Linked DNA regions of Homo sapiens. The protein of the gene in region 3 interacts with the protein of the main gene of each other region in a biochemical or structural test. Each region holds a gene or a part of one and is shown on either strand. Other genes may lie near its edges. The genes, in order: KIF17, RPS6KA3, HTRA4, SLC45A4, MMP24, RSBN1 and GOT1L1.

Region 1 (3,500 bases), on a different chromosome or scaffold from region 3:
GCAAGGATGAGAGAGGGGAGCATGGCAGGAATGTGTCCATCGCTGCCACGGGGAGGGGAGCCCTTGACACTTTGCCTGGACATGGGTGGGAAGAACCCGCTGGAGAGGCCCCCTCAGGCCTCACCAGATCAGGCAGTTCAGGGCTGGGTTCTGTGATGGTAGTTTACAGTGGCTAGGGGGAGGGGATAGAACTCTGCTTCCCCAAACCTCTTGCTGGCCTTAGGTGATGTAATAACCTCTGATTACAACCACGATCGGGCCTGTGTTAAGCACGGGTTAAGAGTGTGTGCTGTGGAGCCCCCGGGTTCAAATCCCATCGCCACTCTTTACTGACTGTGTGTCCTTGGGTTGGTCTTACTTAGGCACATGGAGCCTCAGTTTCCTCATCTGTTGTTACAAGGAATAGGAACGGTGCCTCCTCCTGGACTGCCAGGAGGTTTACATGAGAGCCATCTGCACATCCTCCACGAGGGAGCGTGTCTAAAGCCCGGTGACCTCTGGAGTGTGTTTCAGCAAGCGCATCTGTCACTGCAGCCCCCAAGGCAGCTGGTTCAATAGGCCTGAGACCCATGGCTCAGCTGCAGCAAGTGTGAGCAGCTGCCAGCCTTCGGCCCCTCTAGGCCCGGGTAACTGAGGCCTTTCTAGGGTCCAGGGTAGTGACGAAGGGGAGGAGGGCTCCCTGCTGCTCCAGTGCGGGTTAGCAGAAGGTTTGCAGGGGGCCAGAGTGCCCTAACTCCACAGGCTGGCCTTCTGGGGCTGACATGTGGGAGCAACACCCTCTGTTGCCTCCTGTCTCTGCTTCCCTGTCTGGGGGCTGAGCTATGATTCAGCTGCACTAGGAGAGGGAACGCAGTAGAAAAACTCTAGGTGGGAGGCTGGAGGCTCCTGCATAAAAAACACCAAGTGGCTGGGTGCATGTGGTGGTGCATGCCTGTAGTCCCAGCTACCGGGGGCGCTGAGGTGGAAGGCTCAAGGCCAGGAGTTCGAAGCCAGCTTGGGCAACGCAGCGAGACCTTGTCATATATATATCTATATTATAGATATTATCTATATTATATATATAGATAATATTATCTATATATATATCTATATATATCTATATATATATAATATAGATAATATCTATATATATAATATAGATAATATTATCTATATATAATATAGATAATATTATCTATATATAATATAGATAATATTATCTATATATAAAATTATATTATATCTATATATATTATATATATAAAATTATATTATATCTATATATAATATAGATAATATCTATATATAAATAGATAATATCTATATATATAATATAGATATTATCTATATTATAGATATAGATAATATTATCTATATTATAGATATTATCTATATATAATATAGATAATATTATCTATATTATATATATAATATATCTATATTATCTATAATATTATCTATATTATCTATATTATATATATATTATCTATATATAGATACTATATATAATATAGATATATATATTTTGAGACGGAGTCTCACTGTGTTGCCCAGGCTGGAGTGCAGTGGCACAATCTCAGCTCACTGCAACCTCTACCTCCTGGGTTCAAGTGATTCTCCTGCCTTAGCCTCCCCAGTAGCTGGGACTGTAGGCATGCACCACCACGCCCAGCTAGTTTTTGTATTTTTAGTAGAGATGGGTTTTCACCATGTTGGCCAGGCTGGTTTCGAACTCCTGACCTCAAGTGATCTGCCCACCTTGGCCTCCCAAAGTGTTAGGATTACGGGCAAGAGCCACTGCACCTGCCTAAAAAAGTTTTTTTTAATTAAAAAAAAAAAAAAAAGTCCCGACTCTAGCCTCCCAGTGCCGGCACCCTCAGGACACTTTCCCATATTTCTGAGGGAGCAGCACCAATGCCAACCTCCCCCCTACCAGCCCCACCTGCCCACAATGGGTCTGCACCCACCTCCAGCTTCTGCTTGGTGTCAGCCCCAAGGAGGTCCCGGACATCTTCATTGTAGATCTCCAGGTAGGAGGCCCGGACCAGGAACTTAGTGTTCTCTGCACACTGCAGGGAGTACACAGAAAGAACCTAGACCTCAGAGCTCGAAGTCCACCTGCTGCCAGGTCTGACCCTGGGGCCTGGGCCCTCTGCCACCAGGACATCATGGGAGGAGAAGGGACATCGGGGCAAGAGGAGTCTCCAACCCAACCCGCCCTGCTGGCCTTCCTGGCAAGCTCTCTCCTGTCTCCAGCTTGGTGGGCGCTCAGGCCTCTTTGAGTTGCATAATCTTCATATTGCTGTCTAATGCTCTGTCTACAAGCCTCATGGGAAAGGAAACAGAGGCCTCCTCGTTATTCAGGTTAAAAACAAAAACAAAAACAAACAAAAAACAAACAAAACAAAACAAAAAAAACAGGGCGGGGCGCTGCTCATGCCTGTAATCCCAGCACTTTCGGAGGCCTAGGTGGTTGGATCACCTGAGGTCAGGAGTTCGAGACCAGCCTGACCAACAAGGTGAAACCCCCGTCTCTACTAAAAATACAAAAATTAGCTAGGCCAAGCGCGGTGGCTCACGCCTGCAATCCCAGCACTTTGGGAGGCCAAGGCAGGCACATCACAAGGTCAGGAGATCGAGATCATCCTGGCTAACACGGTGAAACCCTGTCGCTACTAAAAATACAAAAAATTAGCCAGGCATGGTGGTGGGTGCCTGTAGTCCCAGCTACTCAGGAGGCTGAGGCAGGAGAATGGCGTGAACCCAGGAGGCGGAGCTTGCAGTGAGCTGAGATCACGCCACTGCACTCCAGCCTGGACAACAGAGCGAGACTCCGTCTCAAAAAAAAAAAAAATTAGCTGCGCATGGTGGTGGACACCTGTAATCCCAGCTACTCAGGAGGCTGAGGCATGAGAATTGCTCGAACCCGGGAGGCAGAGGTTGCAGTGAGCCAAGATCGCGCCATTGCACTCCAGCCTGGGCGAAAGAGCAAGACTCCGTCTCAAAAACAAAAACAAAAACAAACAAAGAAAAAGTGCGGTGGCTGACACCTGTAATCCCAACACTTTGGGAGGCCGAGGCCAATGAATCACCTGAGACCAGGAGTTCAAGACCAACCTGGCCAACATGGCGAAACTCCATCTCTACTAAAAGTACAAAAATTAGCCAGGTGTGGTGATGGGCGCCTGTAATCCCAGCTACTCGGGAAGCTGAGGCAGGAGAATTGCTTGAATCTGGGAGGCAGAGGTTGCAGTGAGCCAAGGTCATGCCATTGTACTCCAGCCTGGGTGACAGAGCAAGACTCCGTCTCAAAAAAAAAAAAAAAAAAACACCTGAGGCCACAGGGAAGGCCTGGGCCAAGCACTGGCTCTGGGCTGGTCCCTGGCAGCTCTCCAAGGCCCTACATGTTGCTGTGGCCACCATGATGAGTCCTGAGAGTGGCACAGTGGGTTCTGCAGCTGATCAGGGTTGTCCCCATCCGCCATTCCCCGTGCACTGCCACAAATGGTCGCCAGGTAATT
Region 2 (3,500 bases), on a different chromosome or scaffold from region 3:
ACCTGGAACCTTTTTCCCCTGTAGCAGATTTCATTTAGACTGAGTCACTCACCTGGATGTTCTCAACTCAAACAGGGCTGTGTAGTGAAAAGTCATTAGAATTTGCAATCTGTGAGACTTGGGTTTGAATTCTGGCTCCTTCAGTTACTAGCTGGGCAACCATGAGCACGTTATTTAACCCTTCTAGGCTTCAGTTTCCTCATCTGTAAGTTGAGGATAATTCTGTATACTTCATTCAAGTTGATATACACAAAGTGACTTGTCAAGGGGGGCACTCAATAGACGTGAGCTTCCTTCCATCTTCACTTGGGAAAGAAAGAGCAGTGATCTTAACGTACCCCTCACCCTTGGTTTGTAGGTAGGAACATTCTGAAGTTGTTTTTGTAAACTAAGGACTGTATTTTCCAGACTTACGAGTTAAAATTAGCAGAGAGTAGAGAAAAAGTAATATTTGAACTTTTGTGCATTGTGGCTCTTTCAGAATTTGTATTTAAGATAGTTTACATAAAATTAAAGAGTTGTATTGATATGATGTGGATGACAAAATGAATTTTAGTGAAATAAATGTGCTGCACACGCCAACTCTGACTTTGTTAACATATCACCTGCAGCAGGTCTGCCTGAACAGGTCTCAATTTTCTTACATAAATAGGGTAGGGCTAAGTTGTTCTCTAAAATTATATGCTAAAAAAATTTAAATGCTTTCATATTTCAAAATGCACCAATCCACTTTTTCCGTTTTAACTAGCACAGTACAGTGAATGCAACACAATATTTAAACAAATTACCATACAGTAATTTATTTATCCAATAATATAGAAGATAATTGTATATTTTTCTCCCCAGAGACATTAGTCTTACTGTTTATGTCTCGGTCTGTAAGCTCGGTGCACAAGAGGAAACTTGTAATTACAACATTTTTTGATATTTAAATTTGCCCCAATGCTTTAGTGTTATCACTTGAATGAGATGTCACAGTAAAACTATTAAAGCTGTAGGAAGAGTAGAATGGTGATTTGTGGGGTATGTACCACCCTAGAGGGTTTATCAGAATCTTCAGGGTAGAAAAGGACAAAACTAACCTGATTAAACATAATTTGAAAAAGCATGTTAAATATTTGTTTTTAGAAAAGGTTTAGCCTATTAATTTCAAGATACAAATCATACAAGGTAGAAATGAAAAAACACTGGTGTAAAAAATGCATTCAATTTGTACTAATCCTGTAATCTGGAATTGTACTGTTCAACATGGTAGCCAATAGCCACTGGTGACTATTAGATAAAATTTAAAAGTTCACTTCCACACTAGCCACATTTCAAGTGCTCAACAGCCACATATAGATAGCAGCTACTGTACTAAACAGTGCTGATCCAGAAATTTTTTGTGATTTTAAGTAAATCTTTATTATTTTACATTATTTTCAGATAGATGCCTCTGTTCCTAAATGTGAAGAAATGAAGTAACATTCTAGGTAGCTGAGATTTTTGCCACAGGTTTTACAAGATTTCTGGAGTGAAGATTTATCCCAAACCACTGCACTTGAGATGCATTTCAATCTATTAATGTCAAAATGATCTTTTGCTTCAGGCTATCATTTGACATCTGCTTCTAACACATATCAAATGACTGAACCAAGTTTCCTAGGACAAGCTTTGTGGCCCAAAGAATTAGAGACAAGCTCACAGAAATCTAAATGACCAGGTCAGATTTGAAGATGAGATTATCACCATATGTAAGATTATAAAAATCAATTTATATGGTGGACAAAACAAGTTTTTAAGTTATATAAGAGACCATGGATATATTAGTTAAGATGGGAAAATTCGATTTAACTTATGGTTGTAATTCTACTATGACAAGAAATCTAAAAGTGCTTTTAGATTTACACCTACGTGTAGAGTAACAAATATTTAGGAAACTAGCACTACTTTATGAGAACAACAGAAAAGGACTCACAATGTGGAGATGTGACTCCAGGCAGGGCAGTAGGCTAGCTTTCAATTTAAAGCTGCCTGTTTTTTAGTTCATTCATGTTCTACTTTCTAGCTGACATCTTCAAGAGAGGAAGGTAAATATGCAGGGCAGGTAATGTCAGCAATTGAGCCATTCTGTTATGGTATGTAAAACATAAAATCACTATTTATTATTTGGTAATATGCCCAGCAAATACCCCTGACCCCAGAGGTATTTGTACATGATGAGCAGAGACCAGAAAAAGAGTGAGGATGCTATTTTACATTATTTGGAAACTGTAACTTTTTTATATTACTAATCCTAGCTATCTATTCTCTAGTAAGTGAAAACAAGAAGCAATTAATTTAAACAGGAAAATGGGAGAGAAAAGCAGATTAACAGTGGCATAAAGTGGCATATAAGAGAATTTTTAAACTACAAATATTAGACATAAGTTACAGAAACAGTCAAGGTACAGGCCATTTAGTAGGGGCAATTAGCTTGATATTAAGTAGAATATGACCATTAATTTTCAGAACAGTGAATCAAAAGTGTAAATTATTTTTAACTTTTATTTAAATTATTATTAAATTTATATTCACTATTAAGACGGAACATTTTTATACAATTTAATTTAGAAAGATTTCAATTCAAAATGAAACAAAACTCTTGACAGTTAAAGAAAACACTTCAATATAGTCAATTAAACATAACAGCTCATTTCCAGGCAATACTGGATCGCGTTACTGTAGTTATCAGACTTTCCAAAACTGTGTTCTGCAAAGCACTTTGTGTCCACTGAGACTTCAATAGATGGTTTACAAAAAAGGGGTTCTGACATCAAGTCTCAAATGCCGTGGGCCATATCCATTTTGCAGATTCATTGTATACAACATCTTAAAAGTTCTAAATTATACAGTAAAGACAGGTTAAATCTTATTTAATGCCACATTTCCCCAACTTACTTGATTATGCCACACTACCTTATTTTTTGGAGGGGGGTGATTCTTGAGGCATGGATACACCTTTTAACATCATATCTCCAGAGACTTTTCGGCTTGAAAAATACTATATATACTATTTAGAGTTCTGTAAGAACCAACACCACATTACAGACAAAATCTAAAGGATTACATTTCTAGACAGGAAAACCCAGTTACCCTATGGCATTTCGAAATAACTAAAACAAATGTATTTATAGTAATGGGGAAGGAGGTGTGACATATTAATTTCCTTCCCTAAAAATTAACAGAACGGATTCATCCTAAAATATAAAAAGGTGTGCACATTTTGTGTTGGTATGTTTTAGAAAGAAAGTTAAAATTCTACCTATTGATGCTATAAACTGACTTTAACCATTTCTTCAGGGACACATTATCTTCAAGAGGTAGACATACAGAATACACTATATTTCATTGATTAAAAGATACAATCAAGTGTAAGATACACTATTATTTTATATATTGTTAAGGAAAAACATGCTGCTAATTAAACTATGACATCCCATGGACTGTGAGACATCTTCCAATTTGAGCAATGTTAAAAA
Region 3 (3,500 bases):
GCTTGGCCTCTAACTGTTTCTATTAACTATCAAGCAGTCTTTTTTTTTTTTTTTTCCTCCTTCAACAAATGCTGCTTCAGGGAAAATTATTTCTCTACTTGTCTTAGGATATCAGAAATTACTGCGATGGACTCAAAGTTGCTAAGGAATACTTTGAAGTCCTTCCTACACATAGTACTGGTAGTCTGCACATCACATATATTGACATGGTGTCTGAGAGCTTTTTAGAAGTTCAGAGTCTCAGCCTTTACCCAGATAGATGTGCTGACTCAGAATCTGCATTAACATAACATCCCTAGGTGATTTGCATGCACATTACAGTGTGAGAAGTGTCACCCTGGGTGATCTCCTTTCTGTTTGTGGCTTATTCACTTTGACTGTTAAGCTTTGAGCTGGAATGGTGCTGTGTAAATTCCTAATGTCAGTTTATGTTCATCAGTGACTTCACTGGCTGTTTACTAATAGTAATTTCTACAAAGTAATTGTTTTAGATCTTAGAAATGATCCTAGTCATCTTAACACTCAAGAGCTTCATGGTAGTTGGACTTTGAGGAAGAAGTAGAAGGCAATCATAGAAGCTGTGTGAGTGGGTGCTTCTCAGGTGGTAAGGGCCAAGGTGATAGAGACAGCGTCATATATGTGTTAGACACACACTTTGGTCAATTCTGATCGTGATTTGTTCTTTACCCTTTCTGTCCTCCCCATCCCTTTTTGGGCACGTGCAGGCTGAACTTCCTGTACTGATGCTGGGAAGATCATCTGACCTTCGGGCTGGAGAGTTTGTGGTGGCTTTGGGCAGCCCATTTTCTCTGCAGAACACAGCTACTGCAGGAATTGTCAGCACCAAACAGCGAGGGGGCAAAGAACTGGGGATGAAGGATTCAGATATGGACTACGTCCAGATTGATGCCACAATTAATGTAAGTCACTTAGGACAGAGGTGCCCAACCCATGGGCTGTGGACCAGTACAGGTCCATGGCCTGTTAGGAACTGGGCCGCACAGCAGGCTGTGAGCCATGGGCGAGTGAGAATGACTGCCCGAGTTCCACCTCCTGTCAGATCAGTGGCGGCATTAAATTCTCATAGGAGTGCAAACCCTATTGTGAACTGCGCATGCAAGGGATCTGGATTGCATGTTCCTTATAGAATCTAACTCATGCCCGATGATCTGAGGTGGAGCAGTTTCATCCCAAACCACCCCTCCGTCTGTGGAAAAATTGTCTTCCACAAAGCCGGTCCCTGTGCCAAAAAGTTTGGGGATTGCTGACTTAGGAGGCCTTTCCTCAGATCACACAATATTGGCAGTTCAGTGAGAAGAATATGTCAGAGTGAACTTTGGGGATGTCCAGGTTTGGTTGAATCACTGTGGGAGGAATGGAATGCCACTTTGTTAGAGTCTGTCTCGTTCGCTGTGATCGCTGGCATCCATGCTATTAGGTGGTCTGTTGTAGAGGTCACCCCTCCTGTAAGAAGGTGGTGGTCCCTTGGCCAGGCACGGTGGCTCATGCCTGTAATCCCAGCACTTTGGGAGGCCGAAGGGGGTGGATCATGAGGTCAGGCATTCGAGACCAGTCTGGCCAACATGATGAAACCCTGTCTCTACTAAAAATACAAAAATTAGCTGGGCATGGTGGCGGGTGCCTGTAATCCCAGCTACTCAGCAGGCTGAGGCAGGAGAATCACTTGAACCGGGAGGCAGAGGTTGCAGTGAGTCGAGATTGCGCCATTGCATTCCAGCCTGGGCAACAGAGTAAGACTCCGTCTCAAAAAAAAAAAAAAAAAATGAAGGTGGTGGTCCCACTGCTATAGTTCTTTACCTACACTGACTTTGGTATTGGTGATGATAGGGGCACAATTTTGCCGGCCTGGGGGGAATAGGAGCTTGGTGGGCTGCTTTTGGTAAACTGTTTTGGGAGCTATGTGTAAAGGACAAGGGGGAATGTATTCATTAGCTTCACTGATGTCTTTTTCAAATTCTGCTTTTAGTATGGGAATTCTGGTGGTCCTCTGGTGAACTTGGTAAGTGATCACTTTCCTTGTTGCTTCATGTTTCTTCTTAACTTTCAAAGACTTTATTAATTCCAGGCCAGGGGTGGTGGCTCATGCCTGTAATCCCAGCACATTTGGGATGACTGCTTGGGGCCAGGAGTTTGAGACTAGCCTGGGCAAGACAGCAAGACACCATATCTACAAAAACAAAAACAAAAAAGGACTTTACATATTCCATGATGCAGACTTGGGTGCCACTCTTGTGTAGAGAGCTGTGGAATGGTGCTTTTCTGTTCTTGGACCTTAAGTCAATAGTTAGAAAAAATTCAAGATTGTTATCCTGGTGTGTGATCTCATCCCACTGAGAACACTAGGGTTCTAGCTCCGGCTTCCTTTGAAATTTCTCTCTTCCCCGTGCTTTCTGTTTTCATTGGCTAGTTACCCAAAGCCCTGGATTTTATTTATTTATTTATTTATTTAATAGAGACGATGTCTCACTATGTTGCCCAGGCTGGTCTCAAACTCCTGAGTTCAAGTGATCCTCCTGCCTTGGCCTCCCAAAGTGTTAGGATTACAGGCATGAGCCACCATGCTGTGCCAAAAGCCCTGGATATTAAACCCAGGTTTATGCCAAATGACCAGCTTTGCTATGAAATGTAGGTCCTTGAAGACTCCTTGATGCTGCATATGAAGAACTATCTCTCATTTAAAAATGCTAATTACATAATGTCATCTGTCCAGGTTTTTAGTCTTGACCTCTTGACCTGCTTATAGATGAGAGAAAAGCCACAACCAGCACTCCTGACTTCAAGTGAGCTGCCTGCCTTGGCCTCTCAAATACATTGCCGTGTCATGTATTCTTAAATTGTATTCCGTGTCTCTAGTGGAAATGTCAGGGTTTCTAGTTGCCCAAATACATGTGAAAACCTAAGAGAGTGCAATGCTGTTTGACACATAGCATGTGATCATCCTTTCTGAGTCCCTTTGCACTGATTGCTTTTGGTTCCTGTTTAAATATTACATTTGCTTTTAGAATGAATTTTATGCAAAATGATTGTTTTTTTTTTTTTACTCATAGCATTGCATGTCATTTTTCTTTGTTTTGTTCCTGCCTTCTCCATTAGACAATGAGTTTACTAGAGCAGGGATGAAATGCAGAATTTCAGGCCATACCCCCGACCTACTGAATTACAATCTGTAGTTTAACACAATCAGAAATCTCTTTTCTGGCTGGGTACGGTGGCTCACTCCTGTAATCCCAGCACTTTGGGAGTCTGAGGTGGGTGGATCACCTGAGGTCAGGAGTTCAAAACCAGCCTGGCCAACATGGTGAAACCCCATCTCTACCTAACATACAAAAAAAAAAAAAAATTAACTGGGCATGGTGGCATGCGCCTGTAATCCCAGCTACTTGGGAGGCTGAGGCAGGAGAATCGCTTGAACCCGGGAGGCAGAGGTTGCAATGAGCCAAGGTTGCACCAATGCACTCCAGCCTGGGCAACACAGTGAG
Region 4 (4,213 bases), about 100 Mb from region 3:
ATTATTCACTGTCATTGCTGTCATTCCACTGTGTGAATATATCACAATTTATGTATCCATTTAACGGCTGATGAGCATTTCAGTAGTTTCCAGTTTGGGGCAATTATAAACACTGCTGCTATCAACAGAAACACAATGTTAGGTGTGTATCTAGGAGCAGAATTGCTGGGTAATCAAGGCCTTTCAAAAAGATTTTGAAAGTTGTACCACTTTGCATGTCCACCAACAGTGTCTGGCAGTTCCAGTTGCTCCATTTCCTTGTCAACACTTGATATGGTCAGATTTTCCCATTTCCGATGCTCTTGGAGGCTCTGCTCTGCACTTCACTTCTAAATTCCTTTAGCAACAGGTGAGATGGATCTTACGATTTCTATTTTACAGATGAGGACGCCAAGGTTCTGAGAAATGAAGTAATTCCTCCAAAGCAACTTAAACCCTGGCAAGGGTGCAGGGCTGCGACGTTAACAGGGTTGGCCTCAGCCCATCACATCTGTCTGTTAAAGCCGCCTCCCCAGACCTTGTCTTGATGGGGTTTCCCAGCAGTCCTGCCCTAGGGATTGTGGCCCTTCTACACGTGGGGAGAGACGGATCAGTGTCCCTGGCCAGGGCCAAGCCTGAGAGGGAGGCCCAGCCTCCAGGAAGCTCCGGGTCGGGTCTTCGTCCTGCCCCGCTCTCCAGGTTGGAGAGGGGACCCGCAGAGCGCGGGGCGTTGGGGGAGTTGGGGACGGGGGCGTGGTCCGGGACCAGGTAGGAGGTCTTCGGAGGGTGGCAGGGAGGGGAAAACAGGAGAGTTTTCTCCTGCAGCGGAGGAGGGGCTGCAGCACCTGGATGGGGCCCATGTCGCCGCGCCACGGGCAGGGGCGGAGGGGGCGGGAGGGTGCTTGCCAAGGGGCTGGGCTGCCGGGGGCCGGGGCCTCGTGGCTAGCCGGACCCCTCTGCGACAGAGTGGCGAGAGGAGCGGGGAGAGAAGGTGGGGACAGGCGGGGGCCACCTCCTGCGGCTGCAGAGAGGGATGGGGTGGATTGCGGGCCAGCGCTTTAGGGGAGAGAGGGCGGACGCTCGGTGCGGAGGGGCCGGGGCCGGGGCCGGGGCCGGGGGCGTAGCGGGAGGAGGGCGGGGGCGGGGCTGGATTATGGCTGGGGGCGGGGCCATGGCGAGACGGGGGCGGGAGCCACGGTGCGCGCGGGGGCGGGGCAGGGGCGCGGCGGGGGCGGGGCGGCCGTTCGGGGGCGGGGTGGGCGGCAGCGGAGGCCAATGAGCGCGCGCGGCGCAGACCCCGCCCCCCGAATCCCCGTCCCGCGGCGGCGGGTGCTGCATAGTCATGAGGCGCAGGGGCCGGCGCTGCGTCAGCGGAAGCGGCGCGGAGCGGCTGTTTCCGACCCGATAAAGCGGCGTTGTCTCCGCGCGCCGGCCGCAGCCTCGCAGCGCTCTCTCCGCGCCCGCGTCGCTGACTGACCGCCCGGCCGGCCGGCCGAGGGAGCAGCCCCCGCCCGGACCCGCAGCCGCCTCCCGACCCCGGTGCGCCCGGGGCTCCGCGCCCCCGTAGCCCCTGCCCGGCCCGGCCCGGCCGCCCCGCCGCCCCCGCGGCCCCGGCCGGAGGAGACAGGTGAGTGGCCTGCCGCCCGCAGCCGCCTGCCCCGCCGCCCCCTGCACCTCGCACCTGGGCGCCGGGCACCTGCAGCCTCCCCACCCCCACCTCCCGCACAGCCTCGGCCTCCAGGTCGGGTCCGCGCCGCAGCCCCAGCCCCGCACCTTCTCCGGGGGAGGGGACGTGCCCCCACCCGGCTTGCGCTGGCTCCTCAGGGCCCCCCAATTCCTTCCCGCCTCCTCTTTCCGGATTGCACCTGCCCTGGTCCCCAGCCCTGCAGCCTCCCTCATTCCCCCCACCCCGGCCCCCACCCCGGGGCGCGCGCCTTCATTTGGACCCGGCCCGCTTTCGCACCCATCAGTCCTCCCCGCCCCCAGTTCCTCGGTTTCTCTACCCAGAGAGGAGCCTGGCGCCTCTAACTCCTGGTCCTGACCCTGTCTTGTCCTTCTAACCCCTGCCTGCTATCTCTAACTTATGAGAATTCAACCAGCGATACACCACTCGCGAAGTGGCCCCCTCTCCCCTCTGTCTGGACCGGTCCTCCCAACCGAACACACTCCCTTCTTCCCCTTCTTCCCCTTCCCTTCTTCCCCTCCTTTCCCTCTGCCCAGTGCACACACGACCCTGGCAGCACTGCTAGCCAGTGTCCCCCGCCTCGGACCCCCAGCCTGCACCGCCAGACTGTGGCTCTGCCCCGGTCTCATCGGCACTGCGCTCCCTTGTGTCCCTTTGAAGATACCTTGATTTCCTGAGACCGACCTTGTCCCTGGAGGAAAGAGGCCAGGGCATCAGTTCATCCGGGCCCAGATTCCCTGCTCTGTAGAAGTCCCCGCACCTTCTGCGTCTCAGCACCCGCTGCCCCTTTCCCCTTTGCGCTTAACCCGTTCCTCCCCCAGGTATCCTGCTCTGGATTGGAGCACTTCCAGCAGCGGCTTTTCCAGCGGAGGCGGATCCACACGGGGCCCAGCCTCCTGGTTAGCTATTCAGAATGATTCTAGAAGGCGGGGGCTAGGGAGGGCTGGGAAGGGCCGCTTGACCTCCTAAGGAGCCTGAGGTGTTTGTGTCTCTCCAGTGCGGGTCACTGATGGAGTGTGGCTTCAGGTTCACAGACCTAGCCACTGACCCCCATCTGATACCTCAGCTGACTCCAGCAAAACAGGGCTTGTCGTTTTTATTACTGTTTTGGGGGCTGTCTTTTCCAGTCTATGACCCGGAGCGAGGAGGGTTTACCAGATGAGTGATTGAACTAATTGTTGTGGGGTCAGATGATTCTTGTGGGCTGGTAGATTCTGAATCGAAGCCCATTTCTGCTGGGGAAAAGCCACTGCATCTGCCCAGCATTACTGAGAGCGCCCTGCGCTTCCATTCCCCAGACGGTCTCATCCTTCCTGTGTCATTGGCAGACAGGTAGAATGTGGTAGGAATCTTATCCTTCTGTTATTTTGTGCTGGCTTTAGGAAAAAATAAGAAAACAAAAAGCTGGAGTATTGGTGTACAGGTTAGGGAGTGTAACACATGGGGATCAGAGCAGGTAACACACACTGTCCTTAAAAGAAATGTATAGTGTCCTCACTTTTCTGCTAGGTTTGAATTATTGTTAAAAGAACGAGCAGAGATTATTTAAATGCTTGGGAGAGGTTTTGCAGAAGCCACTTGATGAGAAGAGGCAGCCCTGCAGGTTCCGGGTGGAGGAGACTCAGGCGCAGTAAAGAACTCATGTGTTTCTAGAGAGAGGCTGGGGAACTAGGTCGTCTTACACATCAAGGATTTCACACCCGTTCAGGCTAATTGTTTTTGTGGCAGTGGCTGTAAAGGAAAGAAGCAAATCGTTTGAAATGTGTTTGAAATACACACTGGGTATTTAAAGGTGTGTTTTTTTGGCCCAGGTGTTCACAGGGCGGGGAGTGGGGAGGCTGCCCAGGGCCACCTCCCGGGCCTCGTGGGGGGAGTGGCCTGCTGCCCTGCCGAGATGCGTGCTGCAGCTTTGGCCCTTGTCGCATCGTGAAAGCAGATCAGAGATTGGACTGGGTGAGCTCCAAGGTGTGTGTCTTGCAGCTTGTAACACCCTCTAACTTTGCTTATTGGAGGGGGGTGGGGGAGGGGCGGAGCAAGCCTGTAAACCGGATTCTGCCTCCTTTCCGTGAGCTCTGAGATCCCGCCCCAGCCCGCCCCGCAGATCTGCAGGGAAGGAGAGGGCTGCGGCAGCGGCAGCTCCCCACTTTCCCGATGGAGGAAAGGAGCCGAGGAAGGTATTTCAGCCAATCTTGAGGTTGCTTGGTGGTGAATGGATTGTATCTGTGTTGTCAGGAGAGAGGTGGGGAGGACAGAGGAGTGCAGCGCAGGGGTTCGGGCTGTGATTGTCGTTCTGACCGTGGTGCATCCCAGTGCCCTCTCCCGCTCTTCCCGAGGGTCCTGACGCCCAGTGGCTGGCTGGGGTGGTTTGTGACCAACAGCCTTGTGGCCTGGCACCGAGTGAGGGTGACTGACAAGCACTGTAGGTGGCAGACAACCCCAAATTGCCAGTGCCCTTCTTGGGAACACCCCTGGCAGAGTCGTGTCTGTAATTTGTGGAGGCAGAATATGCTGGAAGCCGCGTTCCTGCTAATGATGGGTGAGGACTGTTCC
Region 5 (3,500 bases), on a different chromosome or scaffold from region 3:
GTTATAATGTTCCAGATATTTTGGACCCAACGTAGGCTGAGTGACAGGCCACCGTAGCCCCAGAGCTCCCTGCGGGGGTGGCTGAGGCTGCCATGGGCCTCTGTTGCCACTTAACCTCTCCCTCTTCCCTGTCCTGCTTCCTTCTCCCCCTCACAAATGTTGATTCTGAAAGTACTCTCTAATCGAAATCCTGCATTCCAGACCCCACCTCAGAGTTCACTCCCCGAGAGCCCAACCTGCAACACGTCAAGCAGACTGCCACCCTGTCAGTCCATGGCTGATGGAGGACAGATGACAAGATATACCCTGGGCTGCTGCCAGTAGCAGCCCCTCAAGCCTTGGTAGGGTCTGGAGTCAGACTCAGCCACCACTGACCTAGCCCCTACTCCAAGTTGACCATCTTCAGAGCCGGGTACTCACTGGATCTTCACACACTCTTTGTTAGAGGAATGACTCCCCCAGGTTTCGGATGGAGAAACTGAGGTCCCAAGAAGGGTGGTCACAGACCAGAAGCCAGCTTCCAGCACTTTCTCCCAGCATTAACCCCAGGGGAGGTGAGGGATCACCCATCTTTCCCCCTCCCTCTTGGGAACAGTTGATTCACCCAGCAGCACTAGGAAGAGACCCCATGCCCTGGCCACTGGGCTAGCTCCTGTCCAGGCCCCATTGTAATCGAATCCCAAATCAGGAGCCTTCCCCAGCTCCATGATGTCGGGGAGGAGGAGGAAAGGTCAGGGGCCAGCTGGGTGGTGCCAATCCATTGGCCCTACCTTAAAGACAAACATCTCGCCCCGGAAGAGGGCCACTGTGTTGAAGTTGCCGTCACAGATGTTGGGTTTGGTGCCTGGTGTGGATGGCCGGTCCCCGAGGGGCGGCCGAGGGGGCCTGGGCTGGCGCTCGTGTTTCCTCTCCGATGGTGAGTGGATCCTGCGGACGGGGAGTGTAGGGAGTGGCCTTGTGGGCTCCAGAGGCTCGGCTGGGGGTCCTGGAGAGAGGAGCTGCATCTTAGAGAGGGGGCAGCCGTTTCCCGCCTCCCATTGCCAGTCTCAGCATCACCCAGGCAGCTCTGAGACAAGTCTGTCCCAGTTCAGCCTCCTGTTCCCTCTCCCCAGTTTAACTCCCCCAGTCTTTGAGAAAATGGATGAAAATAGCCATTAGAATGGGACTCTCATCTTTCCATCCCCGAATCTGGTATCTTCTCTTTTCTCTCTCCTGTTACAGAGCAATCATGTCCTTCCTTAGGGTCAGCGCTCTTCCTTAGGCCATACCCTCTTTGCCCCCTTCACACGCACTGGCCCCACTTCCTCACCCCCTTCATTTATTCTCTTTCCCACCCCAGTGCAGCTTCTACCCGTCACCCACTCCAACTGCTCTGCCAAGATCATCCAATGGTTACTTGACTCAGACTTTAATAAGCACATGCATCATCTGGGGATGTTGCTAAAATGCAGATGAGGGCTCAGAGGGCCTGGGGTGGGGCCTGAGAGTTTGCATTCCTTCACACTCTCAGGTGATGCTGATGCTGCTGGTCTGAAGACTACATTTTGAGCAGCAAGATTCATAGAAACACTTTCCTGGAAACACTCTCTTGGTTGTCCTCCTGCCTCATGGGCTGTTCTTTCTCAGTCTCCTTTGCTGGCTGCGTGTCCTCATCTGCCCTACTCTAGAGGCTGGCGTGCCCTTGGGTCCTCTTCTCTTCCGTCTCTACATTTTCATCCTTAGGTCAGTGCTTCTTCACTTGGGCTGCATATTAGGATCACCTTTGGGAGCTTTTCAAACTGGATGTTCAGGAAGCACCAGGCCAGCTCTCCAACTTTTTTTTTTTTTTTTTTTTTTTTGAGAAGGAGTCTCGCTCCGTCCCCCATGCTGGAGTGCAGTGGCGTGATCTAAGCTCACTGCAACCTCTGCCTCCCAGGTTCAAGTGATTCTCCTGCCTCATCCTCCCAAGTAGCTGGGACTACAGGCACGTACCACCACACCCAGGTGATTTTTTTTTTTTTTTTTTTTTTTTTTTAGCAGAGATGGGGTTTCACCATGTTGACCAGGCTGGTCTTGAACTCCTGACCTCAAGTGATCCACCCACCTTGGCCTCCCAAAGTGCTGGGATTACAGGCGTGAGCCACCACGCCCAATACCCAACTATTAATAAAACCAAATCTCTAGAGCTGAGGGCTGGGTGTCTGTGTTTTTTTATTAGAATCCCAAGGTAATTCCAAAGGGCAGCCAAGTTGAGAATCACTGCTCTAGGTGGTCTCATCCAGGCTCATGGCTTTACAGACCTGCATCAGAGCTGTCCAGTAGAGTGTTCTGTGATGATGGAAATGGTCCATATCTGCATCGTTCACTACAGTAGCCCCTAGCCACAGCCACATATGGCTACTGAGGTCTTAAGATGAATGACTAGTTCTTAGTGTGACTGAGACCCACTAAAGAACTATAACTGAAATGATAATTTTAATATATTTTTGGGGGGGTAGAGACAGGGGTCTCACTTTGTTGCCCAGGCTGGTCTTGAACTCCTGGCCTCAAGCAATCCTCCCACCTCGGCCTCCCAAAGCGCTAGGATTACAGGTTTGAGCCACCGCGCCCGGCCTAATAAATATAAATTTAAATTTCATTACTATGAAATTTAATACTAGTTTATTTAATAGTAGTTTATTTAATACATACTAGTGTATGACTAGTGGTTACTGTATTGAACAACAAAGATCCCAAATAAGTATTCCAGCCTAGATTTTTTTTTTTTTTGAGACGGAGTCTCACTCTGTCGCCTAGGCTGGAGTGCAGTGGTGTGATCTCAGCTCACTGCAACCTCCGCCTCCCGGGTTCAAGTGATTCTCCTGCCTCAGCCTCCCAAGTAGCTGGGATTATAGGCGTGCACCACCATGCCAGGCTAATTTTTTGTATTTTTAGTAGAGACAGGGTTTTGCCATGTTGGCCAGGCTAGACTTGAACTCCTGACCTCAGGTAATCGCCCGCCTCGGCCTCCAGCCTAGAATTTTGAGCTGCAGACTGGTGGACCCTATTGCTTCACAATTACAAAAGCTGGAAACCCTGGGGGCATCCTTGACCCTCCCTCCTTCCTCTCACCCCATGTCTGATCTGTCAGCAGATCCTGTTGTTCTACCTTTGGAATAGCTTCTGGGACCCACAGCCCCCACCTGGTCTCTGCTGCTTTACTTGTGGAGGTCCTGCCTGTCCTCCAGGGCTCTGGCTGGGTCATCTCCTCCAGAGGGAGCCCTCCTTCTGTGCTCCGTAGCCTGTGGGCTGTGGGTGCCTGTGCTGTCTTGACAAGCATTTGCTCAAGTAAACTGGTCTCCCTAGCTCACCTGACTTGACCAGAACAAGAACCTCACATACCAGTGTGAACAGAACTGGGAGAGAGGTGTGTAGGAGGCCTTTCATATCTTACCTAGATAGCAGTAGCTTCTCATCTTTCACCTTTTCTTTCTTTTTTTTTTTTTTTTTTTTTTTTTTTTTTTGAGACGGAGTCTCGCCCT
Region 6 (3,500 bases), on a different chromosome or scaffold from region 3:
TTCTATATAAATACCTGACTAAAAAGGAAAAACAAAAAACTACTCATTTTGAAAGCCAAACATTTGTGAATCATTGTATGTTTTTAACACTGCCTTACTTTACCCACCATCTCTCTATATTATGGTGTTTTAAGAGCGCTGTCTAGGTTTAAATCCCTGTTCTATAACTTTCTAGTATACTTTCTAGAAGTATACTTTCTAGAACTTTTTTTTCCCTAAGCCTTTACTTTTTTTTTTTTAGAGCAGTTTCAGGTTCCTAGAACTATAACCACACCTGGCTCCCACAAATGCATAGTCTGTCTCCCTGATTATCATCACCCCCAGCCAGAGTGGAATACTTGTTACAACTGATAAGTCTACATTGATGCATCATTATTCGCCTGCCCGCAGTCCATGGTTTACATTCAGGTTCACTCTTGTTGTACATTCTGAGGGTTTGGATAAATGTATGACATGTATCCACCATTAATTAAGTTGCATAAAGAGTAGTTTCACTGTCCTATAAAATGCTCTGTGCTCTGCCTATTCATGCAACCCTCTCTAAAACCCCTAGCAACCACTGATCTTTTAACTTTCTTGATAGTTTTGCCTTTTCCAGAGTGTCATATAATTGGAATCATAAAATGTGCAGCCTTTTCAGGATGGCTTCTTCCACTTGGTAATATGCATTTAAGGTTCCTCCATGTCTTTTTATGGCTTGATAGCTCATTTCTTTTTAGCACTGAATAATATTCTACTGTCTGGATGTACCACAGTTTATCCATTTACCTACTGAAGGACATTTTGATTGCTTCCAAGTTTTGGTAACTATGAATAAACCTATTATGAACACCTATCTACAGGTTTTTGTGTGGACACAAATTTTCAGCTCCTCGGGGTAAATATCAAAGAGTATGACTGCTGGATCGTATAGTATGTTTAGTTTTGTTAAGAAACTGCCAAACTGTCTTCCAAAGTGGCTGTATCATTTTGTATTCCCAACAATAATGAATGAGATAGCATATCTTTTTGCAAGTTAATTCTTTGCACTGCTTCTCATTGGTAAAACCGGAGGAAAGAACAGTATCTCATTATAAAATTAGTGTGCAGAGTAAATGAAAAACGCATGTGAAGTACTTATAATAGTCCTAGAACATAATAAATACTCAATACATCATAACTACTATTATTGCCAAAAACAGTTGAATTCTAGAGGCAGTAGAGTGTACTATTTAAGATAAGAACAGGTGCTGTACTGTTAGATAGACCTAAGTCAATGTCCCAGCTCTATTGTTTACTAAGGTCTCTGGGTAAGCTCATAAATCTCTTTAAATCTAAATTTTCTCATCTTAAAATGTTATAATAGGCCAGGTACAGTGCCTCATGCCTGTAATCCCAGCACTTTGGGAGACTGAGGCAGGAAGACTGCTAGAGTCCAGGAATTCAAGACCAGCCTGAGCAACACAGCAGGACCCCATTTTTACAAAAAAAAAAAAAAAAAAAAAGTTAGCTGGGCTTGGCGGTGCATGCCTGTAGTCCTAGCTGCAGGAGTGAGCTAGGCTTAGCTACAGGCTGAGGTGGGAGGATCGCTTGAGCCCAGGAGTTCGAGGTTACAGTGAGCTATAATCACTTCACTACACTCCAGCCTGGGCAACCCCGTCTCAGAAAAAAAAAAAAGTTATTAATTCTAGAGTCTATCTCACAGAGTTATTTTAAGAATTAAATGAGACAATGACTATAAGGCCCTCATCACAATATGTGACACACAATAAGTCTCTTATCATCTTGATTATCAAGAGAAACACATAAGAAAGATCTCTGAAAGAGGAAAGAAAACGTATTTGCCAAATGTCTAATAGGGACCATATATGTTATTTTATTTTAATCCTCAAACCAATGAAGTACGGAGAAAGAAACAGCCTGAAACAAGATATGTAATTTATATTAGGTCACAAAGCTAGTACACAACAGCCAAGATTCAAACTTCTCACCTATCTGACTCCAAAACAAATTCTTCTAACATACTGCACCCTACACTCTCTTCCTTTCCGCCTCCACTATCAGACATCTCCCTGCAACACTCCCATTAGATGATCAACTAAGATTATCTGGTTACAATTAATGGACCTGAGGTAGCTTGGAATAAAGGGAGTATTACTTCAACAAATATCTTACTTAGTGCCATTTCAAAAGTTTTCGTGCCCTTAAAGGTGTTTTTGCCTCTCTCAGGGTGAGCAGGGAAAAATATTAGTCCCTACAGTTGTTGTTCTGATAAATAAGATTGTTTATTTCAATTCCCTTATAATCCCAATAATTCTCCATTGCTAACATCAAAAAGAAGTGTTTCTGGACTTAAAATCCCTGCTTTTTGACATGAGAGAAAATTTCCATTAAACATCTGGCTCAGGAACACTTACACTCGGTGATAGCAGTTAGGCAACTGGTCAAGAGTAAAAAAAAAAAAAAAAATGAGATAAGAAAGATGACTCACAAGAGCATACATATGAGCAATCCGGTCATGTAATGACATTGGAGAAGACAGCCTATGGGGGCTGTCCTTCCTTTCTTTCCTTTTTAACAACATATTAAAATCATGAATTTACTAAGAATAATTAAAAAGAAGCATTACTTCTTTTCATGGATTTTTAAGGAAGTATGTTTGTCCTATTTTTTTTTTTGAAACGGAGTCTGACTCTGTCGACCAGGCTGGAATGCAAGTGGCGCAATCTCAGCTCAGTGCAACCTCCGCCTTCCAGGTTCAAGTGATTCTCCTGCCTCAGCCTCCCAAGTAGCCCAGCTAATTTTTTGTATTTTTCGTAGAGACAGGGTTTCACCATGTTGACTAGGCTGGTGTCAAACTCCCGACCTCGTGATTTGCCCACCTTGGTCTGGGAATACAGGCATGAGCCACCGCGCCCGGCCTGTCCTATGTTTTTATGAGCAATAAGAGGGAGAGAAAAAAATTAAGATTTCAAAACACATAGGTAACCTCCAGTTTAGTTACACTCAAGCTTATTCCCTATAAGAAATAAAAACAGCATTTAAATATCTCTGTTAAATAATCAACCCCAGTGTGCATAGCAGAAAGAGAGGTCAACTGGGCCATGAGGGAAAAAAATTGAGTTCTGTATTCAGCTCTATCACCAACTAAAAAATTTTAAGCATTTCACTTCATCTCTCTGAAAATCACTTCTTTCTGTTTTAAAGATGAACAAGTTTACCCTAGCATTTACAGATTAAATTTTTGTTTCAACTGTTTATGAACAACTCCAAATGTCTGAGATTGTAATAATTTGTAATTAGTCTCCACATGAATTCAGATTAAATACTGTTGAACTGCTGTGCAGGAAGGAACATGTCTCTTAAGTGAACTCAAGGGTGGCAAACTTCTCTAAAGAGCCGAACAGCAGGCTTTGCAGGTCTTATGGTCTCTGTCTCAATTACTGTATTCTGCTACTGTAGTGCAAAAACTACCATAGACAATATATATGAATGAACAGAGCTATATTCCAATAAAGCTT
Region 7 (4,299 bases), 1.0 Mb from region 3:
GTCCCAGACAGAGTATTCATAAACTGTAAAGCCCATGTCCTGGAAGACGAGTCCATGCAGTTCTGTGGGAACACAGCCCCCCACTAGCTGGTACATGGGAAACAGAGAGACGGAGACAGAGGTACTGGAGTGTGGGGCTGAGAGTCACTGGCTGAAGGTGGGACATTAACAGGAAAAGGACATAAATAGCTTGGCTTGTCTGCCATTTTGCTCATGACAGAGAATGAGGGATAACAGTGAAGATGGCAAATGGGGTGAGGATTAGGAACAAGGGACGGGGATTGCTGTTCCCCTCATCTTGGGTAAGACTAACCTTTTTGAGAAGAGATGATGTAAACTATACGAGCATCCTTATGCCAAGCTCTGAGAAACTGGACGCCAAGCTGGAAGGCACCACTGTCACCAACAGTGTGTACACCCCCTACCTGCCAGCAAGACATAGACACAAATAGGCCAGGTGTGGTGGCTCACACCTGTAATTCCAGCACTTTGGGAGGCTGGGGTGGGTGGATCACTCGAGGTCATGGCCAACATGTTGAAACCCCGTATCTACTAAAAATACAAAAATTAGCCGGATGTGGTGTTGGGCATGTGTAATCCCCGCTACTCAAGAGGCTGAGGCAGGAGAATCACTTGAACCCGGAAGGCGGAAGTTGCAGTGAGCGGAGATCAGGCCACTGCACTCCAGTCTGGGTGACAGAGTGAGACTCCGTCTCAAAAAAATAATAAGTAAATAAACATTAAAAAATAAAAAGAAATAGACAGAAATAACACTCTAAAACAGTAATGGAGGCGAGACGCAGTAGCTCATGCCTGTAATCCCAGCACTTTGGGAGGACGAGGCAGGGAATCCCCTGAGGCCAGGAGTTTGAGACCAGCCTGGCCAACATGGTGAAACCCTGTCTCTACAAAAAATACAAAAATTAGCTGGGCGTGATGGCACATGCCTGTGATTCCAGCTACTCAGGAGGATGCAGCACCAGAATTGCTTGAACCTGGGAGGTGGAGGTTGCAGTGAGCTGAGATGGCACCACTGCACTCTAGCCTGGGTGACAGAGTGAGACTCTGTCTCAAAAAATATATATAATAGGTTAAAAAATAAAACAGTAATGGGAATACTAACACCACCTCCAATTCAGATCATTCCTGTCTTGAAAGAGCTTTCAAATCAGCAGTGTGAGCAGGTGGGAATACCACTGGACTGAGATTCCGATCCTGACTCGATGGCTAAGGACTTGTGGACTCTCTGAGCCTCAGGTATCTCTTTTATCAATACCAGGGGGCCCTCCGAGGTCCCCTTCGGGTTTAAGGTTGTGCAGACCCAGATCGCCACTCTCTGTGTCTAAATGAGCCAGGGGAGGGCCCACCTTCTCACCCTGTTCTCCACAATGGCTTGGCTGTGCTTTCCAAAGAGGAGTGCTAGAGAGGCCTGGATGAATGATTTCAGGCCCATGGTGGGCAAGTACTCATAATTCAGGGAGGGATCCTGTGAAATCTGTAGTCGAGTCTTCTGCACCACGAGAGAAACCCAGGGATGGCCTTCATTTGTCATGCAGACTGTGAGGAAAACCACAGAGGGAGCTCCAGATGCCTGGTTTGGGCCCCCAGGGCTGAGCTCTGCAGACAGCCTGCAAACAAATCTCTCCTGGACTCCATGGGGCTGTGGGAAGGTGCCTGTGAAAATACAACTTTCCCTTTTCTTTTCTCCTTGATGAAAAGAATATGCTGTTAGTGAATGTGTATTATTTTTGTCTTTTTAAAAAAGACAACTGAAACCTATGCCATTTTAAAGGTTAAAAATTATACAAGCCCAGGATTGGTGGCTCAGGCCTGTAATCCCAGCACTTCGGGAGGCTAAGGTGGGTGGATCACTTGAGTTCAGGAGTTCAAGATCAGCCTGGGCAACATGATGAAACCCTGTCTCTACAAAAAAATACAAAACAGCCAGACATGGTGACCAGCGCCTGTAGTCCCAGCTACTCAGGAGGCTGAGGCAAGAGGATGGTTTGAGCCCAGGAGGCAAAGGTGGCAGTGAGCTGAGATCTTGCCACTGCACTTCAGCCTGGGCAACAGAGTGAGGCCCTGTCTCAAGAAAAAAAAAAAAAAAATATATATATATATATATATATATATATATATATATATATATGCAAAATGAGAGTTATAGGTAGATGAAGCTAAATAAAGGTAACCCTGACTTTCACAGTGGTGAGCCCCAGTTGCATAGCAGAAAGCTCAATCTGGAGAACCATTCTTGGTTCAAGAACAGGAAGAGAAAGAGAAAGAGAGAGAGAGGAGGTAAGAATCTGAAGAAGTGTGGGATGGCCATGCAGGCCCCCAAGCATAGAGTTGTGGAAGAGGACATAGCTCTCACCAAATCCCTAGAAGCCCCCAGAGAAGGGCAGAGAGCATGGAATGACCTGGGACCTTATCTGCACTTTTCCCCACTGGGTAATTCTGTTAACAAGAAAAGATCTCTCCACCCACAGAAGCTTGGGCTGCACCCCTCCCCCTGCAGCAGGGAACACTGTCCTCCTAGAGGCAGTTACCATCACTTAAGTCTTATACTTCAGAACTGCTAGGCATCTACCTCTATAGGCTAAGAATATCTTGTTCGGGTAATCATCTTGTTTGTAGGTCTTTAACAAGCTGCCCTCTAGCTTGTGGGCGAGGGGCACATCCATGAACACTGAAAGGGTGGGCATAACTGAAACGAAACTGGAGCCAAGACTATGTGTCTCTGCTCCTGTGTTCCGCTTCTGCCCAGAAGTCTTCCTCCAAGGCTGGGCCGGGCAGTCCTGCCTCTTCCTGGAACCTTGGCAGCCCCAGTGCAGAGGCGCTGGACAACGGGTTGCCAGGGCAACAGAACCTCATGATCTTTGTGGTGGCGATCCACAGGGGCCACAGGAACATTCCAGGGTACTTGAGGAGAATCCCCTCAGACAGCGGGCAGGGCAGGATAACAATCTCCGGAATTCCCAAGCCCGTTTCCCTCACTCAATGCCTTCTCTTCTCTAGCCCCAGGTGGCTCAGTCCAAAGTAACAAGCCCACTCCTTAGATGACAGGGCAAGGATAATGGGAGATTACTTAACAGATACAATGTACATTGTTGGGGTTATGGATACCCTAAAAGCCCTGACTTCACCACTATGCGATGTATGCATCTAACAAAATTACACTTGTACTTCACACATTTATACAAATTAAAAAAAAAAAAAAGAAAGAAAGACATAGGGCAAGGCAGGCAGCCAATAAGCCAGATAGGGCTTCTCCTGCAGAAGCAAAAACCCCAGATCACACACCAATGCAAGTCGAGGCATTGATTTCCATTTTGCAAAGTGCCCCAGATTTCAAAAGGAATAAAAAGCAAACACTGTTTTCTTCCACAGTTGTTTTAATAAAGAATCCTATTATTAGAATATAATTGGCAACTCACTAAGCCAGTCCTATTTCTCTCAGTTATCTAGAGCCAAGACTTCTACATATGTTTGTTAAGTTTCTTTTTCTTTCTTTTTTTGGTTTTTTTTTTTTTTGAGATGGAGTCTCACTTTGTCGATAGTCTCGAACTCCTTGCCTCAGGTGATCTGCCTGCCTTGGCCTCCCAAACTGCTGGGATTACAGGCATGAGCCACCACACCTGGCCATTTGTTAAGTTTCAATGACAGCCAACTAGTAAGTATAGACAGCAGAGGCCAAGGGGAGAAAAGAGCCAGCCTCTATAGAGTCAGTCTGCATATTGCTTGCTTTCTTTTCCTTTTGATGTTTAATGACTCTCTCTTTTTTTTTTTTTTTTTTTTTGAGACAGAGTCTCGCTCTTGCTGCCCACATTGGAGTGCAGTGGTGTGATCTCGGCTCACTGCAACCTCTGCTTCCCAGGTTCAAGAGATTCTCCTGCCTCAGCCTCCCGAGTAGCTGGGATTACAGGCATGCGCCACCACACCCAACTAATTTTGTATTTTTAGTAGAGAGGGGGATTTCTCCATGTTGATCAGGCTGGTCTCAAACTCCAGACCTCAGGTGATCTGCCCACCTGGGCCTCCCAAAGTGCTGGGATTACAGGCGTGAGTCACTGCGCCCGGCTTTTTTTTGTATTTTTAGTAGAGACAGGGTTTCACCACGTTGGCCAGACTGGTCTCAAACTCCTGACCTCAAGTGATCTGCCTACCTCAGCCTCCCAAAGTGTTAGGATTACAGGCATGAGCCACCACACCCAGCCTGATGTTAAATAACTCTTTAAATGATTGTTGCAAACACTGTTGATGTCTCACCCAGAAGGCCTTCACCACCAATGTGCCCGG

What was found.
Region 1: the proteins of HTRA4 (region 3) and KIF17 interact in a test that uses a peptide from one of them, tested with the Homo sapiens proteins (one large-scale study listed by IntAct).
Region 2: the proteins of HTRA4 (region 3) and RPS6KA3 interact in a test that uses a peptide from one of them, tested with the Homo sapiens proteins (one large-scale study listed by IntAct).
Region 4: the proteins of HTRA4 (region 3) and SLC45A4 interact in a test that uses a peptide from one of them, tested with the Homo sapiens proteins (one large-scale study listed by IntAct).
Region 5: the proteins of HTRA4 (region 3) and MMP24 interact in a test that uses a peptide from one of them, tested with the Homo sapiens proteins (one large-scale study listed by IntAct).
Region 6: the proteins of HTRA4 (region 3) and RSBN1 interact in a test that uses a peptide from one of them, tested with the Homo sapiens proteins (one large-scale study listed by IntAct).
Region 7: the proteins of HTRA4 (region 3) and GOT1L1 interact in a test that uses a peptide from one of them, tested with the Homo sapiens proteins (one large-scale study listed by IntAct).

The regions. Positions count from the first base shown.
Region 1 is NC_000001.11:20,711,508-20,715,007, forward strand, and holds part of KIF17 (kinesin-like protein KIF17), read right to left. Parts: intron 2,049-3,500; coding exon 1,947-2,048; intron 1-1,946. UniProt on the Homo sapiens protein: Dendrite-specific motor protein which, in association with the Apba1-containing complex (LIN-10-LIN-2-LIN-7 complex), transports vesicles containing N-methyl-D-aspartate (NMDA) receptor subunit NR2B along microtubules.
Region 2 is NC_000023.11:20,256,910-20,260,409, forward strand, and holds part of RPS6KA3 (ribosomal protein S6 kinase alpha-3), read right to left. Parts: intron 1-3,500. UniProt on the Homo sapiens protein: Serine/threonine-protein kinase that acts downstream of ERK (MAPK1/ERK2 and MAPK3/ERK1) signaling and mediates mitogenic and stress-induced activation of the transcription factors CREB1, ETV1/ER81 and NR4A1/NUR77, regulates translation through RPS6 and EIF4B phosphorylation, and mediates cellular proliferation, survival, and differentiation by modulating mTOR signaling and repressing pro-apoptotic function of BAD and DAPK1.
Region 3 is NC_000008.11:38,977,228-38,980,727, forward strand, and holds part of HTRA4 (serine protease HTRA4 precursor), read left to right. Parts: intron 1-725; coding exon 726-920; intron 921-1,987; coding exon 1,988-2,020; intron 2,021-2,731; coding exon of another isoform or gene 2,732-2,764; exon of another isoform or gene 2,765-3,258; intron 3,259-3,500. UniProt on the Homo sapiens protein: Serine protease.
Region 4 is NC_000008.11:141,305,489-141,309,701, reverse strand, and holds the start of SLC45A4 (solute carrier family 45 member 4), read left to right. Parts: upstream 1-1,413; 5' UTR 1,414-1,606; intron 1,607-1,809; exon of another isoform or gene 1,810-2,562; intron 2,563-3,750; exon of another isoform or gene 3,751-3,837; intron 3,838-4,213. UniProt on the Homo sapiens protein: Proton-associated sucrose transporter. May be able to transport also glucose and fructose.
Region 5 is NC_000020.11:35,264,690-35,268,189, reverse strand, and holds part of MMP24 (matrix metalloproteinase-24 preproprotein), read right to left. Parts: intron 986-3,500; coding exon 771-985; intron 1-770. UniProt on the Homo sapiens protein: Metalloprotease that mediates cleavage of N-cadherin (CDH2) and acts as a regulator of neuro-immune interactions and neural stem cell quiescence.
Region 6 is NC_000001.11:113,802,477-113,805,976, forward strand, and holds part of RSBN1 (lysine-specific demethylase 9), read right to left. Parts: intron 1-3,500. UniProt on the Homo sapiens protein: Histone demethylase that specifically demethylates dimethylated 'Lys-20' of histone H4 (H4K20me2), thereby modulating chromosome architecture.
Region 7 is NC_000008.11:37,937,325-37,941,623, forward strand, and holds the start of GOT1L1 (putative aspartate aminotransferase, cytoplasmic 2), read right to left. Parts: upstream 2,801-4,299; 5' UTR 2,706-2,800; coding exon 2,591-2,705; intron 1,558-2,590; coding exon 1,376-1,557; intron 426-1,375; coding exon 314-425; intron 63-313; coding exon 1-62.